4 separate regions of the Homo sapiens genome follow, and regions 1, 3 and 4 are each reported to be linked to region 2. Evidence: microRNA targets listed by miRTarBase, many of them from high-throughput screens and not tested one by one. Region 2 holds a microRNA gene; each other region holds the end of a gene's coding sequence.
Evidence for each region. The annotated mature microRNA hsa-miR-1285-5p reads GAUCUCACUUUGUUGCCCAGG and lies in region 2 at 2,449-2,469, shown strand. An mRNA with a match to its seed (bases 2 to 7 or 8) in the 3' UTR can be bound and repressed. Matches are read on the target gene's strand: a 7mer-m8 pairs with bases 2 to 8, a 7mer-A1 pairs with bases 2 to 7 and ends in A, and an 8mer does both.

Region 1 (4,226 bases), not on the chromosome of region 2:
GCATGAGATTGTATGTCTAATTCTGCAAGATCCTGAAGGCATGGCTCTTAAAGGATGCCATCATGTAGTTTAGAAGCCACTAATTTCCGAGGAGTAATCTAATGTTGGTTAGATCTTTGGATTGACTGCAGCAAAGTATTGGTAGAGCAGTCTATCTCAGTATAATTCTTTCTAGGAAAATTTGGGAAGCGACTTTAACACAAAAACGAGGCAGATTTACTTATTTGCCATTTTCTATGTTAACATGCTTAATTATGTTGGAAACTGAATCTTTCTTTCCAGTACCACTTCCGCTGTCACGGTAAAGTCCGCCATCAGAAGACTGAAGGAGTTGAAAGACCAGTAGACGCTCCTCTACTCTTTGAGACATCACTGGCCTATAATAAATGGGTTAATTTATGTAACAAAATTGCCTTGGCTTGTTAACTTTATTAGACATTCTGATGTTTGCATTGTGTAAATACTGTTGTATTGGAAAAGCATGCCAAGATGGATTATTGTAATTCAGTGTCTTTTTTAGTAGTCAAATGGTAAAATGCAGCATAAGAATATAAGTCTTCCAAGTTAGATATGAGTGTTAGCTTTTTATAAGTCTGCTCCTGCCAGTTTGACTTTGAGATACATTGGAGCCAACTGTAAACTTTAGTTTTTAAATTACAGTTAGTTTTTTTGTTTGTTTTTGAGGCGGAGTCTCTGTTACCCAGGCTGGAGTGCAGTATACCAGTCTTGGCCCACTTCAACCTCCACTTCTTAGGTTCAAGCGATTCTCCTGCCTCAGCCTCCTGAGTAGCTGGGATTACAGGCACGCACCACCATACCTGGCTAATTTTTGTATTTTGAGTAGAGATGGAGTTTTCACCACATTGGCCAGGCTGTTCTTGAACTGACCTCAAGCGATCCACCTGCCTTGGCCTTCCAGAGTGCTGGGATTACAGGTGTGAGCCACCACGCCCAGCCTTGCATTTAATATTTTTATAATGTGTCTAGGCTGGGTGCGGTGACTCACGCCTGAAATCCCAGCACTTTGGGTGGCTGAGGCAGGTGGATTACTTGAGGCCAGGAGATTGAGACCAGTGTGGCCAACATAGCAAAAACCCGTCTCGACGAAAAATACAAAAAATAGCTTGGTATGGTGGCACATGCCTGTAATCCCAGCTACTTTGGAGGCTCAGGCACAAGAATCACTTGAACCTACGAGGCGGAGGTTGCAGTGGGCCAGGATCGTGCCACTGCACTTTATTTAGCCAGGACAACACTCTGTCTCCAAAAAAAAGTTTCTGAAGGTAAAAGATATACTAAAGGATATACATATACTGCCTCTTCTATGATGTTTCATTTGACCTACACCATCAGCATCTTCAGGAAACAGTATGAAACTAATTTCACATTAAATGTTGCAAACGTCTGCAATTCTCCAGTTTTTAGTTTGCACGTAAGGATTCGTAGGATTGATTTCAGATTGACAGATGGTTGTAGTAACAAAAAAATGAATTGCCTTGGAGAATTCGAGTTATTTTAGGCCTGCCTTTGACACTTTTATGCACTTAATTCACTGCCAATTTAGTCTAACTCCTCAACCATCTGTGGTATGGACTTCTCAGTCCTCCTAATTGGTATGTCTTTTATCTATCCCAGAGTCAGTAGTCCTTTAAGGATGCAAATTTAATTCGATAAGAATGTGGATTTACTTCATCTTTAGGACAGAGTAAAAACCTTTATTTCACTTGGTCTGACCCCTATCTTCTATAACTTGTTTTTTTGCTCATTACTGGCCTTTGCACGGATGTCTCCCTTCACCTGTACCTCCTGCATTGCCTCTGGCAGAAACATCGCTACCCCAGGAGAATACTTCACTGGGTCAGGCATTTGCTAGATCCATAGCAGTAACTCATCTGTGGATCTCATTTGTGTCACAAAATGGTACTCCTACTGATTTTGTAATGTGAAGCAAGTACTGTGGGTCAGTAGGGGTAGGACCAGGAGTGACAAGTCAGGATTTTCAGGCTTCATAGGAATGACACAGCTCTCCAGGTGAATCTCCTGGAGAATTCTCCATAGGATCTCCAGGTGAGTGACCAGGATTTCATGTAAGCATAGGGAATTGAATGAGCATTAGATGGTCTAATGCTGCGGTTAAGAACACCAACTTAGCCAAACTGCCTAGATAGTTGGGTGACTTGGGTTAAGTGACTTAACCTCTCTGCTTCAGTTTCCTGTATAATTCTTGGTAGTAGAATGGAGTATATGCTGGGTGTTTGGATTATTAATTTGGAGTCTTACAAAGCTGCTATGTTACATGATTAGGCATGGAAAACTTCGGTTTTTATAATCAGTGAAGTACTGCTTTTTGTTTGTTTTCTGAGAGAGTGTCTGTCACCCAGGCTGAAGTGCAGTGGCATGATCTCAGTTCACTGCAGCCTCTACCTCCCGGGTTCAAGCAGTTCTCGTGCCTCAGCCTCCGAAGTAGCTGGGATTACAGGCTTATGCCACAAAGCTCAGCTAGTTTTTGTATTTTTTATTTTTAGTAGAGATGGGCTTTCGCCATGTTGACCAGGCTGGTCTCAAACTCCCAGGCTCAACTGATAACGTCTGCCTTGGCCTCCCAAAGTGCTGGGATTCTGTAAGCCACCTCACCCAGCCATGTATTGCTTTTTTATGACAGTTAAAAGAGGAAAGGGCGGGGGACAGTTTACAGACCAGTGAAAGTGCTGAGATAAATATTTTTATACCTAAGGAAATAGTGATTTTCCCAAGATGATAGGGAGGCAGGTGATGTAGATAGGGCTGAAGATTAGATTTCTGGCTCCTATCTGTGATTTTCTGCTGTACCAGTCTGCCTTCTATTTTATGGGCTCAGTATTCCTTACCTGCCTCTTCCCATGCTAAAGATGGCCCACCTTCGTTTTGTTATTTAAGCAACTTCATCCCCTGGCTTGTTTTCACAGTGGTTTTCTGAGCCTTTGACTCTAAGTCATCTAATTGAACATTGTGTTGTGATATAAAAAGTAAGTTAGGCTTGTGTTTTTCACCAGGCCATTTCATTGTATCCTAACTAGGCGGGTGGCTGTGATAAATGTACAGATTAGCCAATACAGAATCACGTCTAATTCCAAGTTTTCTTTTGGGTATGAAGTTGAGACATGGGGAAGCTTGAGCTTTGTTTTGTCAGCAACAGGTGAGGTGGAGAACTGGGACTGAAGGGGTTTGGGGAGGATCTGTTTAAGATTGGAAAAAATACATCAACTTGGGAATGTAAGCAACTAGAACCAAGCAATCTGTACAACGTTTTTACTGTTGGCTGTCTTCCTCTGGGAAACTAAAAGCCATTTTGTTGATAGCACTTCAGGTCAGAATTCATCAACAGGGAATGGAAACATTGTTTATATGCTTTGGGGTACATCAAGATAAGTTGAGGGTCAAGTTAATGTCATGCCACAATCAACCCTGTATGTCAGGGCCCTTGAGAGCAGAGTAGTGTCGGGAGAGTGGGTGGTATGGTTGACACAAAGACCCACAGGTATTTTTATGGGTTCACTTAATGAAGCAGGGGCTTAGTTGAGGGTAGAGACTGTTCATTAAACCAGCCTTTGTTGACCACTCCCTGCAGTATGGACAGGACATGATCACCATCCTTAAGTCCCACTATAGCAGGGGGGAAACAGTATGCTTAATTAAGCTTAATTATAAACTCTTTGAGTTAGAAAACTGGTGAAAGTGTTATTTCCTCCTGAAGTAATTATGTATATATACATGCCAATTCCAATCAGAATGCTAATTTTTCTTTTTAACCCCAGAGCTGTGCAAAATGTTTCTCAAATTTATTCAGGAACATAAACAACAGTTGGAAAGGACAAGAACTGTCTCCAGCATAATGGTTAAGAATGTGGAGGCTGAGGCAGGACAATGGTATGAGCTGAGACTGCACTGCAGCCTGGGCGACAGAGCAAGACTCCGTCTTAACCAAAAAAAAAAAAAATAATAATAATGTGGATTCTAGAGTCAAGCAGGAGTTATTTGGTTGTTCTGCTATACTAGTTGTGTGACCTTGGAGGAATTATTTAATCCTCTCCTGAACTTCAATCTTTTTTTTTTTTCCCCCGAGATAGAGTCTTGCTCTGTCGCCAGGCTGGAGTGCAGTGTCATGATCTTGGGCTCACTGCAACTTCTGCCTCCTGAATTCAAGCGATTCTCCTTCCTCAGCCTCCCAAGTAGCTGGGATTACAGGT
Region 2 (4,000 bases):
TGGCTTTGATTCTGGGTGAGTGCAGTAGTATAGTCTCCCTGTGATTTCTTCAGCTTTAATGAGCATTAGCGGTGTCTGAGAGTCCCTCAGTGGCTTAGACTGTGGTTGTTAATGAAGGCTGTAGTAGGCTTTTCTGGGGACTGTGACTCCAGGTAGACCAGTGCTCAGGCACTAGTAGTTGTGCCAGTAGGCAGGGCATGCCTTTCCTCAGGCCCCTAGATAGTACATGTGGGCGCCAGCAGGCATAGGCAGAGCATAACAGTACTTAAGGCCCCAGATGAAATGCACAGGCACCAACAGCAGGCAGAACAGGCCTGTCGTCAGGCCCTCTGATGGTGTATGCAGGCAATGGCAGCAGCGTGCTAGTTGAGTCAGTCCTCAGGCCCTTAGATGGCATGCTTAGGCACAGTTGACAGTGGCAGTGGGCAGAGCAGGCTTGTCCTTAGGACCCTAGATAATGTGTGCTGGTGGCAGTGGTGGGCAGGGCAGGCTTCTCTCCAAGCCCACCTCTGGAGTTTGCAGGTGCTGGTGGCAGGCAGGTGGGTTGACCTCCTGGCACTATGTGCACAGGTGACAGCAGCAGTAGGTGGGTTAGACCCTTTTCAATCCCACTTTAGAGCTCTTCAGTTAGAAGTTAGTTTATGGTGCTCCTTTTTCTAACCGTAAGTCATTATAAAATACAGGTTTATCAGTTATTTTTTGGCATATTTAACACATTTAAATGGGATGAACAGCTTTTTAGTTTATAATAGGAAGCTAATAAAAATCAAATCTAATTTGTTTCATTTTGTTTTGTTTTTTGAGACAGAGTCTTGCTCTGTCACCCAGGCTGGACGCAGTGGTGTGATCTTGGCTCACTACAACCTCTGCCTCCTAGGTTCAAGCAGTCCTCCCGCTTTAGCCTCTCAAGTAGCTGGGATTACAAGCATGAACCACCAAGCCCACCTAATTTTTGTGTTTTTCATAGGGGGGTTTCACCATGTTTGCCAGGCTGGTCTCGAACTTCTGACCTCAAGTGATCCACCTGCCTCGTAATTTGTTAATTAAGATTTGTTAAGAATAGACCAAATCAGTTAAAGTAATAATGAAGCTTATGCATTTTTAAAAGGCATTTAGATTAGGAAATTTCACTGTAAACCCAGTTTTTATTTTCCTCATTTTTATGTGTCTTTTTTGTTGTTGTTGTTGTTGAGATGAGTTTCGCTTTTGTTGCCCAGGCTGCAGTGCAATGGCGTGATCTTGGCTCACTGCAACCTCTGCCTCCGGGGTTCAAGCGATTCTCCTGCCTCAGCCTCCCAACTAGATGGGATTATAGGCATGTGCCACCACACCTGGCTGATTTTGCATTTTTAGTAGAGAGGGGGTTTCTCCATGTTGGTCAGGCCAGTCTCGAACACCTGACCTCAGGTGATCCGACTGCCTCGCCCTCCCAAAGTGCTGGGATTACAGGTATGAGCCACCGTGCTCGCCCCTTTATGTGTCTTGATAGGTCTTTATAATCACATAACTCCTGAAATATCCCAGTCATAGTTTAGTCATTTTATATTAATTTTCAGGGTTATCTTTAAGGGCAACAGTTACTTTGATAGATACACACGTGAATGGAGATAAAATATCTAGGAACATAGGGTGGAATAGAGTCTGATTTTAGTAATGACCTGGAGCTTAATTTCTTGAAGTCTCTTCTAGCAGGGGTCCCCAACACCCAGGCCATGGACTGGTACCGGTCCATGGCCTGTAAGGAACCGGGCCGCACAGCAGATGAGCAGCAAGCAAAGCTTCATCTGTATTTACAGCACTCCCTATCACTTGCATTACCATCTGAGCTCTGCCTCCTGTCAGATCAACGGTGGCATTAGATTCTTATAGGAACATGAACCCTCTTTTGAATTGCACATGCAAGGGATCTAGGTTTCATGCCCCTTATGAGAATGTAATGCCTGATGATCTGTCACTGCCTCCCATCACCCCCAGATGGGACCATCTAGTTGCAGGAAAACAAGCTCAGGGCTCCCAGTGATTTTACATTGTGGTGAGTTGTATAATTATTTCGTTACATATTACAATATAATAGTAATAGAAATAAAGTGCACTATAAATAAAATGGGCTTGAATCATCCCAAAACCATCCCTGACACCCCTGTCTGTGGAAGAATTGTCTGCCACGAAACCGATCCCTGGCACCAAAAAGGTTGGGCACTGCTCTCTTGCGGTCACCTTGCTTTTGGGTCATTTGCTTATCATTTTCTTTTTCTTTCCTTTTTTTTTTTTCCTTGGGACACAGTCTCACTCTTTTGCCCAGGCTGGAGTGCAGCGGCACCATCATAGCTCAGTGCAGCTGCAAACTCCTAGGCTCAGGCAGTCCTCCTGCCTCAGCCTCCCAAGTAGTTGGGACTACAGGCATATGCCACCACACCCAGCTAATTTTTTTATTATTTGTAGAGATAGGATCTCACTTTGTTGCCCAGGCTGGTCTCAAACTCCTGGTCTGGGCAACAAAGTGAGACCTTATCTCTACAAGGTGATTCTCCCACCTTAGCCTCACAAAGTGCTGGGATTGCAGGTGTGAGCCACCACACCATCCTCATTTTCTGTTAAAACTATTTTGCCCACACAAAATAGGCTGCTGTTTATTAGCTTGTAACCACTTTTCTATTTCTCTTGTACTAAGTTCATTAAAGGAAATGAAGGAGAAATGCCCCCCACCATTTCAAGAAATTTTTCCTCTGCTGTTTCAGAGCATTTTATACCAACATCTGCAAATCATTCTTCATAGAACTGGATGGTGATGCTGTGCCATTTCTCTAAACTATATTTTATGTTTGTTAGCTTTCCAATTTTTGGCAATAATACAAAGTTTTATATAGTATTCAAATGAAGGTTTAGTGATATTATTTAACACTTAAATATAACATTTCATATTATGTATAATACTTTGATCCAGGATTCAAATAAATGAGTTAGCAGTAACAGACAGAAGGATGACAATAATATTCTTAATTAACAGTCTGCTTTTTCCTTAGATAAGAGGTTCAGTTTCTTGAACTATAAATAGAAATGCTATCCTTGGGTATCTAAACAGGTGATTGAACCAAAGAGTAAAGGTATTTTCTATCCATCTAGTCATTACCTTGTTCTCTGTAAACCACTGATAAATTTATGGCACCTTTGAAAGCTTTAAGATAGTTGCATATTTCAGCCGTCAAATGTGGGAACAACCAGCTTGTCCTCAGTTGTCTTAGATTCACCAAGGTCTACTAGGATTGCATTCAACAAGCTTAGCAAAAACATAGCAAACACCTTCATCTGCAAAAATACCTTCATTTGCATTTAAAACACTACATGGGATACATTAGTGTCAGAGATAGGAAAAGCCATGGGACACAGTTGTGTTTTTTGTGTCAGTTGTTTCTACCTTCTATAACTACAGGCTCAGTACTTTTGTTGGAAATTTGACTTCTATAATTGAGAAGTAACTATACTACAGTTGTATTTTTTTCTGTATATTGAACTGTTTTGAAGCCATATTAATGGACTGTTTTGTGGCTTTTGAATAAAGAAATTTCAGGTGATTGATTTAAAAGAGAAGGCAGTTTAAGGTAGTATGATATCTTGACTCTGTTCAGTCTGTACCTTGATAAGTAGCTATTTTAGTATATCCTCCTATGTATAAGGTTATATTTTACAATATAAATGTAGATAGCCATTTTTAAAAGATACTATTAGTTTTTCCTTATACTTAATGTATACTCACATAAATTACCTGTGTTTCATTCACAGAACCTCACTTTATTTATTTTATTTATTTATTTAGACGGAGTCTCACTGTTGCCCAGGCAGGAGTGCAGTAGCGTGACCTCGGGTCACTGCAACCTCCGCCTCCCAGACAGAACCTCACTTTAAAAATCCCCTAACCCATTATCTTTCTGGCACATTCTTAGTTTAGTATTTGTGGTCAATATTATAAGAATTGGTATTTATAGAAACTGAATGCTTCTAA
Region 3 (4,205 bases), not on the chromosome of region 2:
TTTCTCCCAGCACCCATAATTCAAAGCAAGAACAACGACATTATGGGGAGAAAACGTCCTTTTGTGAAACAGAAGGCAGTAAGTACAGCTCGTAGGCAGCCCACACTCACCTGACCTTCCTGTTACCACTTTATACTGAGATGAGAGTAATGAAAGCCCGGACAACACTGAAGCTATGAAGTAAAAAAGAAAAAGCTACTCCATCTTTCCCTGTCTAGCTAGATGTGGGAAGCAAAGTGAATTTACTTCATTTTTACCATTCTAATTTTCTTTTGTTTTTGAGATGGGGTCTAACTGTCGCCCACGTTGGAGTGTAGTGGCGCGATCACGACTTACTGCAGCCTCGACCTCCCGGGTTCAAGCGGTCCTCCCACCTCAGCCTCCCAAAGTGCTGGGATTACAGATGTGAACCACCACGCCTGGCTTAATGAAGGGGTTTTAAATTTTTGCTATTAAAATTATTCCTGTTGAGCGAGCCGAGATCTCGCCACTGCACTCCAGCCTGGGCGATAGAGCGAGACCTTGTCTCAAAAAAATAAATAAATAAATAAATATTCTGAGTGAAATAATTGGCATTAAAAAGTCCTCAACTTTTAAAAATCCTGTTAACAAAAAAGATGCAGTAGGCCTCTAGGTCAGGCACCAGCTGTCGGTAAAAGACGGAATAGAGCTGAGGATACAAAGATTAGTCTACTTAAAAAGTTAGGCTTTAGTCCCCTCTCCTGATAGCTCTATGCCTCTCATTGCAAGGATGACAATGTACAGGGCACAGAAAATGATAGATAATAATAGTTTAAAGCTGAGCCACCACCTTTAATCAGAGATCAAAGCCATTTAAATACTTGAACAGAGTTGAAGCCCTTAAGGCTGGATCCCAATTCCCTCTGAACTCATTTTAAATCCTAATTAACTCTTGGGGTAGGGGATTATTTGACCTTATTAAAAATAACTTTATCATGACACAAACGAAAACAAAACACATTTTGTGAGTGGTTTGAAAGTCTATCAAGTGACTTTAGAATCATCCTGAACTCTTTTTCTCTCTTATCCTAGATCCACACCATTAGTAAACCCCATCAATTTTGCCTTCAGAATATATCCAGATTCTTCCCAATTCTACCGCCACCATTCTGGTTCAAGCTACCTGGTGAGTTTGCACCTGGAATACTACAATACCTTCCTCTCTGGTCTCCCTGCTTCTACTCTTGCCTCTCATGTACATGTTATCTCAGTGCAGCAACTACAGCAATCCTAAATAAGGCAGATCATACCATTTATTCTCAGAAACCTTCACTGGCTCCTTACCTCAAAGTAAAAGCCCAGGTCATTAGAAAAACCTCAGTAAGTTCATTTCCTATTACTCTCCTAGCTCATCCTGTCAGCCATACTAGTCTTCTTGCTTTTCCTTGAATATACTAAGCTCCTGTCTGGACCTTAACCTCCTCCACCTGGAACTCTCTTCCCGATATGTATTTTCATCCTCATTCCCTCACCTTCTTCAGGTCTTTGCTCAAGTTTACCTATCAGTGAGATCTTTTCTGACAACCCTATTAAAAATAGCAAGCCTCCCCCCAACTCCCTGTCCCTGCACTATTTATTCCCTTCCCTTCTTTATTTTCCGTCGTTACACGTATCACCATCAGATATGCAGTTTTATTGCCTTGCTTACTAACATTGTACAATCCCCTCCTCTCCACCAATATGTGCTCCACAGAGGGGTAAGGGCTTTGTTTTGCTTACTGGTATATTCCAAGTGCTTAGAACAGTTGCTGGCACATGGTGGGTACTCAATATTTTGTGATTGAATGAATTAATGAGTGAATGATGTAATGAAAAGATAAGCATCTTTGTCAATGTTAGAAACATTTACTTCTGACGATAATCCATATAGCTTTCTCTGATGTTACACAGCGATTACATCTCCTTGTGTCTAAATTAAAGTCAAAGTATGAATTTTAAGATGATTTTTAATTATTTAACAAGTAGAAATACGATCAGTGACAATTATCAATTAAAACATTAAACAACCCAGTTACCTTTTCTTAACAGTCATGATGAAATATCCCTTTCCTGTCTTATCAGAAGCCTTAATTATTCTCTACCACACACACCACAAAAGCTTCTTAATAGAGCATCAGTGTCCATCACACCTTTGTGTAGAATCTCTGGCAACAAGGTGCTGTCTCCTCTTGCCCTGCCCCCACATCTGCTTAACTACTCTTCTTTCTGGAATGCCTCTTTTGCTCCCATTTTGTGAGCTCCTGCAGATGTGTTTAAGGTCCAGCTCAGTGACTACCTCCTAGAGCCTTGCTTGACCACTTAAACATACAAACTAAAAGCACAATGTGGTCATTTCGGAAAGATGATTGATAAATTCTCAAGCCACAATGTCTAGTTTTTAAAAAATGCAAGCAGGGAGGAACAGAAGTGACATATCAAGAAATTAAAAACACAAATTATAGATTGAAAAGACTATAGTAATAAAAAAATTCAATTTCACACTAAAATATTTAGTGTTACAGAGAAGGAACCAAATTCTAGCCTTTATATTTTGTCTTAAATATAAAGAAAAGCTTTATATTTATAGAAATGTTTTTAAGTTTGGTAAATAATTACTACTAAAAATTTTTAGAGATAAGACATTTCTGGTTAAATAACATGAAGCATATACACAAAGATAATATGACAAGCCCTTCTTAGTCTTCTACTTATGTCGTATTTTTTATTACTCACAATGGGGCCTCAATATTTAAGAATTAAATATGTAATACCAAATGAAGGAAACTGACAATTCAGTGAATAACTAAACTGAAAACACTTCACATGAAATAAAAATTTAAAGAGTTAAGGAAGATTATTCCTGAGTAGGCTTTCAACATTATTTCTTGAAGAATATTATGTTTACACCAATATATAAAAAAGGACTGTTATGAAAAATAATTTTATGCAAATATTCTGACACCATTCCCTTTAACCAGGAGACCATACAAGTCACATAAAAGTCTAAGCAGGTAAAAGGAATGGAAATTGTTTCATTTAAATTATTTCTTAAAAATTAAGGTGTATTTTTTATTTTAGCAATGTGCTGCTCTAATTAAAGCAATAATTTACATATGCATGGCACCCACAAAGAACATTGCTGATAAAATTTTAAATGTTTCCATGATCAGTTTCCATTACCCTCTTCTAATAAACATAAACAAAGATCTCAAAGGTATTATATAATAGTGCCACATGAGAAGTAGAATTTATGGAAAACTTGACCTATGTCACCTTTTTTATATTCATTTTCACTGCTAAAAAAATAAACTAGCATCATTTGTACAGTACAAATAAAATTAAAGAACTAATGCTATTTGGGAAACAACTGTCAAGAGCTTTCCTTTTTTTTAATCCTTTAAATCTAAATATATAAATTCAAAGTTAACTGGGAAACTGTTACACCTATATTAGAATACATAATTTATATTTGCATGAACATGTATTCTATTTCTTCTGTACATGTTTGCACATTAGCACAAAAATACAAAACAAAGATCAGATTTTGAACATATGAAAGCAAAAACATGTTTTCAAATACATTTGTAATAGTGGATTTCTGGTCTCCTTTAGAAAACAAACTCAAGAATTCGTTATCTCAGTCTCTTCAAGGCCACTTGATGTTGTGTGGTAATATCTTTAATTACATTTCCTCAAGACTTCTTCTAATAGCTTCTTCTAATTCCACATCTGCATTAAAAAACATAGAATTTTAACACTTAGGGCAGAAAACTCAACATGTGCTGTATTTATTTAAGTTTCATCGACTGTATTCTTTTCAAGAAGGAAAGTAAAATCAAAATGGAAAAACACAGGATAACTTGGCAGTTTCTCTACTAAAAAATTGAGTATTTTGAAATATGAAAATCTAGACATGATCTTGAATTGAATTTTATATATGAACTTAGAACTTGCAAGTTAATTCCACTTAGGAATGTAGAAAGTCAACAAACTTTTAAAATCACTGACAGGTAATCATTTGTTTCAACATTTAAAAAAAAATCTGTATCACTTATTTGCTAAAAGACTTGAGGTGATACATATAAGACTTTAAACAGAAAGGCAACTCCATGAAATGACAAAATGTCACAGGCCATTAAAAATTTAGTTTAATTTTTAATTATACCTCAATAAAGCTGGGGAAAAATTAGCTTAAAGCATCCTAG
Region 4 (4,226 bases), not on the chromosome of region 2:
TTGGGAATTGGATCTTCTTCATCTTGGTCTCCATGGTGCTTTTGTAATTCCAGAAATGTGGTGGATACTTATATATGTCCATGAAACTACTGATTGAACGAATAGAAATGTAGATTGATATTCTTCTGCTTGTGTAGTACTTGGCATTCAATATTAGAAAAAAATCCAGTCAGTTATGTTCTATGTTAACGTTTTAAGGAAGTCATTAATGTCACTTTATTTTGACTTTTATTTCTTTTCTTGTAGGTGAAAATGCGTGGAATAGACTTTTTTGAATTTCTTTGTCAACTAATCCTGAAAGAAGCGGATCAAAAAGAACAGTTTTCCCAAGGATCTCCAAGCAACTGTCTGGAAACTTCTTTGGCAGAGATATTTCCTTTAGGAAAAAATCACAGCTCTAAAGTTAATTCAGACAGCGGTATTCCAGGATTAGCAGCCAGTGTCTTAGTTGTGAGTCACGGTGCTTACATGAGAAGTCTGTTTGATTATTTTCTGACTGACCTTAAGTGTTCCTTACCAGCCACTCTGAGCAGATCTGAACTTATGTCAGTCACTCCCAATACAGGGATGAGTCTCTTTATCATAAACTTTGAGGAAGGAAGAGAAGTTAAACCAACGGTTCAGTGTATTTGTATGAACCTACAGGATCATCTAAATGGACTGACTGAAACTCGCTAAGGTTAAATCTGCATCAAAATCTAACCATTTTGAGCCTCTGAAGGGAGTGCCATTGGCTTTATTTACTTCTCTCCTCTGCTAGTTCTGATTTGGAAACAGTTAAAAGCCAATTTTTAGCTCCAGTGGAACCATAGCCACATAAAACTTTAATGGACAACCATATAGAATTAACTTATTTTGTCCAAGTACAGTTGGCATTTTCCAGAATAATTTTACCACCCTGCTAGATGTCATCTCTGGATTGCACATGGATGATGAAGGAACTCAGCATTGAAAGTTGGGGGATTAGTAACCTTGTTACAACGGTTTCTTTTTCATTTTAGCCTATTTTAATGGCTATTGGTAAGATACTGTATGTTTTTAGTATCTCATCCAGTGCTTAGAAGAAAGAATGGTTTATAATTCCCAGTACATGTTTATATTGACTGTGTTATATTTTTAAATCCTTTAAATAAAAAATCCTTATAAGTTTATGTAAAGCAAAATAACACTAACATGTTTTACGTATAAATCAACTATTGGAATTTTTTATTCTAGAGGGCTTGAAATGTGGATGAATACAGATTATGATTGCAGAATGGTCTGGGGGAAGAAGTTAAAACATTTGATTTAAATACAGTAAAGAAAGAATCTTGGAGCAGAAGATAGAAGAACAGCCTTTTCTAAATAATGCCTTGCCAAAGTCAAGTCAATGGAAACCAGGAAAGCCAAAAAAATGAAGAATATCCACTTGCTTCTTATCTAACCTGTAGGCTGAAGAATTTCCAGTTTGAGGAAGGCTCTAAAGAAAGTAAACAGTTAACAGAACACCACACAGTAATCAGAATAAAAGAGGGGCCTTCTTTGTAAAGAATGGTGCTCTGGGCCGGGCCCAGTGGCTCACACCTGTAATCCCAGCACTTTGGGAGGCTGAGGCGGGCGGATCACAAGGTCAGGAATTCTAGACCAGCCTGGCCAACAATGGTGAAACCCTGTCTCTACTACAAATACAAAAAAGCCAGGCGTGGTAGCAGGCGCCTGTAATCCCAGCTACTTGGGAGGTTGAGGCAGGAGAATCGCTTGAACCCGGGAGGTGGAGGTTGCAGTGAGCCGAGATCGCACCACTTCACTCCAGCCTAGGTGACAGAGGGGATGACAGAGGGTGCTCTGCGGGCAGGGAAGGCGGGGTGGTTGGGGGGGAGAGAATGTTGCTCTGATAACCACAGCTGTGGTTATTTTGTGGCAGGTACAGGTGAGGTTGCCTCTTCTTTCCACCAGATGGCACTGGAGAAAAGGGATTTTGATTAACTTAATTTTATACACAAGATTGGTCTTTCAGAAATCTTTATCTAAATGAAGAAACTGTTCTACATGTAGTTCGCTTTTAAGTCACCATGTTGCTAAATGCTGTGAGTCTCAACTTTAAAGAGGGTTAATACTAAAGTTGTCAGTTAAGGCTATAGTCACATATAGTCAAAATTTACTTTGACATCATTTTAAATCATATGTAAAATTCAGTATTATATTGTTCTTAGTGTGTCTAGCACTACCAGTTTTCTACCAGTATTGAAACAGGGCACGTGTTTGAGCATCAGAGGAAGTATACTGTAAATAAAAATTTGAAAAATAAGCAAAAAGGACAGACAATAATTATCTCCATTCCCACCATACTGAAGTCATCTTTCCACTTTTTTTTTTAAAGAAACAAAACATAAAGATAAAAGTAGAGTTCTCTTTAACCAGCTCTCACAGTCCTGTTCCCTCCAGAGGCAGCCACTGCAGTGAGTCTGTGTATATGTTCACCTGTTCATCTGCTTGCAATGTTCATCTGTTCCTTATATTTTCACCTAGTGTCTGGAAGGAGATGGTACTGTTTTGGTGCTTTAAAAATAAATATCAAGCCATCTGTGTTCTTTATTTTTACTTATGTCTTGGAGGCATCTCTGTGTTGATATATATAGATCTAGTTAATTATAACCACTCTATTCTATTAAATATAGCACATTTTTGTTTATTAGTGGGCATTTAGGTATATTCAGTTTTTATTTTCTTTGCTTTTTTTCTTTTTTTTTTTTTTTGGAGACAGAGTCTCTCTCTGTTGCCCAGGCTGGGGTGCAATGGCGTGATCTTGGCTCACTGCAACCTCCACCTCTCGGGTTCAAGCAATTCTTGTGCCTCAGCCTCCTGAGTAGCTGGGACTACAGGCATGCACCACCACGCCTGGCCTTTTTTTTTTTTTTAGTAGAGACGGGGTTTCGCCATGTTGGCCAGGCTGGTCTTGAACTTCTGACCTCAGGTGATCCACCTGCCTTGGCCTTCCAAAGTGCTGGGATTGCAGGCATAAGCCACCGTGCCTGGCCTATGATGCATTTTTTTAATATGTGTTCTTAATTTTTAAGACAAACCAATATACCTTATCCTTTATGGGGTTTTTTTGGTGTGTATCTTTAAGAAGACTTCTCTACCATGAGGTCATACAGTAATGTCTTCTTACAGTTTTTGAGAACTTCTGAATGTCAAATCTTGAAATTGAAATTTGCTTTTTATAGTATAAGGTAAGAATTTAATTTTTTTTTTCATGTGGTTGAAACAGTTATCCCAACACCATTGTAAAGGCTGTTCTTTCCCAATTGGTTTGTGGTGTGTGCTCTCAGGCCTCACACCCCCTCATTTGCTAGAGTCTGTGGACTCTTTTAGTTATCTGTGTATTTCCTTATCAGTGTCATACTTAGTTACTGTGGCTTTGCAGCTGACTGTCTTAAAGGGTGGATACCTCCTCTTGTTCATTTTTAAAGTTGTCTTAACTATTTATGCACTTTTATTCTTCCATATAAATTTTGGAATCAATTGGTCAATTTCCAGAAAAATTCTGTTACAAATTTTATTGGAGTCACATGCATCTCTTCATCTATTCAATACGTATTTTTTGAGCATGGCACACACATGCCAGGCTATTTTAAGAACTACTACAACTATGATAAAGCTGTGAATATGTAGCCATGAACCAAAACAAAGTCTCTGTCCTTGTGGAACATTTGTTCTGTCAGAGAAGACAGTGTGTTGGCTCACATTGTGGTCAGTGCTGTTGAGCAAAATAGGTCAGAGTAAGGGGGATGGAGACTGGTGGGAGGAATGCTGCTTTATCCAGGATGGGCAGGGAGGACTCGATGGTGTCAGCACTGAAGGATGTAAGATCTGCTGCTCTGGGGAGAGGAGCAGCATGGAAGGAGTAGAGTGCAGAGGCCATGAGGAAGGATCAGGCTTGACTCCTTTGAGCAAGGGGGATGGGAGAGTGACGGGAGAAGAGGACAGGCCACATGGCCTGGTGGCCTGTGCTGAGGCCTTGGGCTTTTACTCAAGTGAGATGAGATGCCATTGGCCAGTTTGGGCAGTGATGTGATCAGACTTGTTTCAGCAGGACCATCCTGCTTGCAATGTGGAGAGCAGGCTGTAGGGGGTGCTATAGGAGCACAAGGTTGGAGGCAGGGAAGATGGCAGCACTGGCTGTTGGGCCATTTGAAGAAGCAAGGCCAGGGATGTTGGCAGGGACCAGGCCAGAGTGCCTCCAA

Region 1: the mRNA of RPL37A is a reported target of hsa-miR-1285-5p. Seed matches in the 3' UTR shown: 7mer-A1 at 615-621 and 7mer-A1 at 2,710-2,716.
Region 3: the mRNA of ZNF451 is a reported target of hsa-miR-1285-5p. Seed matches in the 3' UTR shown: 7mer-A1 at 3,634-3,640.
Region 4: the mRNA of TIGAR is a reported target of hsa-miR-1285-5p. Seed matches in the 3' UTR shown: 7mer-m8 at 4,017-4,023.

Annotation. Positions count from the first base shown.
Region 1 is chr2:216,501,059-216,505,284 of GRCh38, forward strand. It overlaps RPL37A (ribosomal protein L37a), which reads left to right. Exons shown (of 4, transcript NM_000998.5): 4 at 283-3,028. The coding sequence ends at 346. Among named protein-coding and RNA genes, the nearest start is that of RPL37A, 4.3 kb to the left of the region's middle.
Region 2 is chr7:92,202,536-92,206,535 of GRCh38, reverse strand. MIR1285-1 (microRNA 1285-1) reads left to right here and starts at 2,438; the gene lies at 2,438-2,521. All of the region lies in intron 17 of KRIT1 (KRIT1 ankyrin repeat containing), which reads left to right.
Region 3 is chr6:57,167,947-57,172,151 of GRCh38, reverse strand. ZNF451 (zinc finger protein 451) reads right to left here. Exons shown (of 15, transcript NM_001031623.3): 15 at 1,847-3,729. The coding sequence ends at 3,683. ZNF451-AS1 (ZNF451 regulatory antisense RNA 1) reads left to right here. Exons shown (of 4, transcript NR_110742.1): 1 at 1-78; 2 at 1,054-1,147. Among named protein-coding and RNA genes, the nearest start is that of ZNF451-AS1, 2.2 kb to the left of the region's middle.
Region 4 is chr12:4,352,014-4,356,239 of GRCh38, forward strand. It overlaps TIGAR (TP53 induced glycolysis regulatory phosphatase), which reads left to right. Exons shown (of 6, transcript NM_020375.3): 6 at 247-4,226. The coding sequence ends at 678. Among named protein-coding and RNA genes, the nearest start is that of FGF23, 26 kb to the right of the region's middle.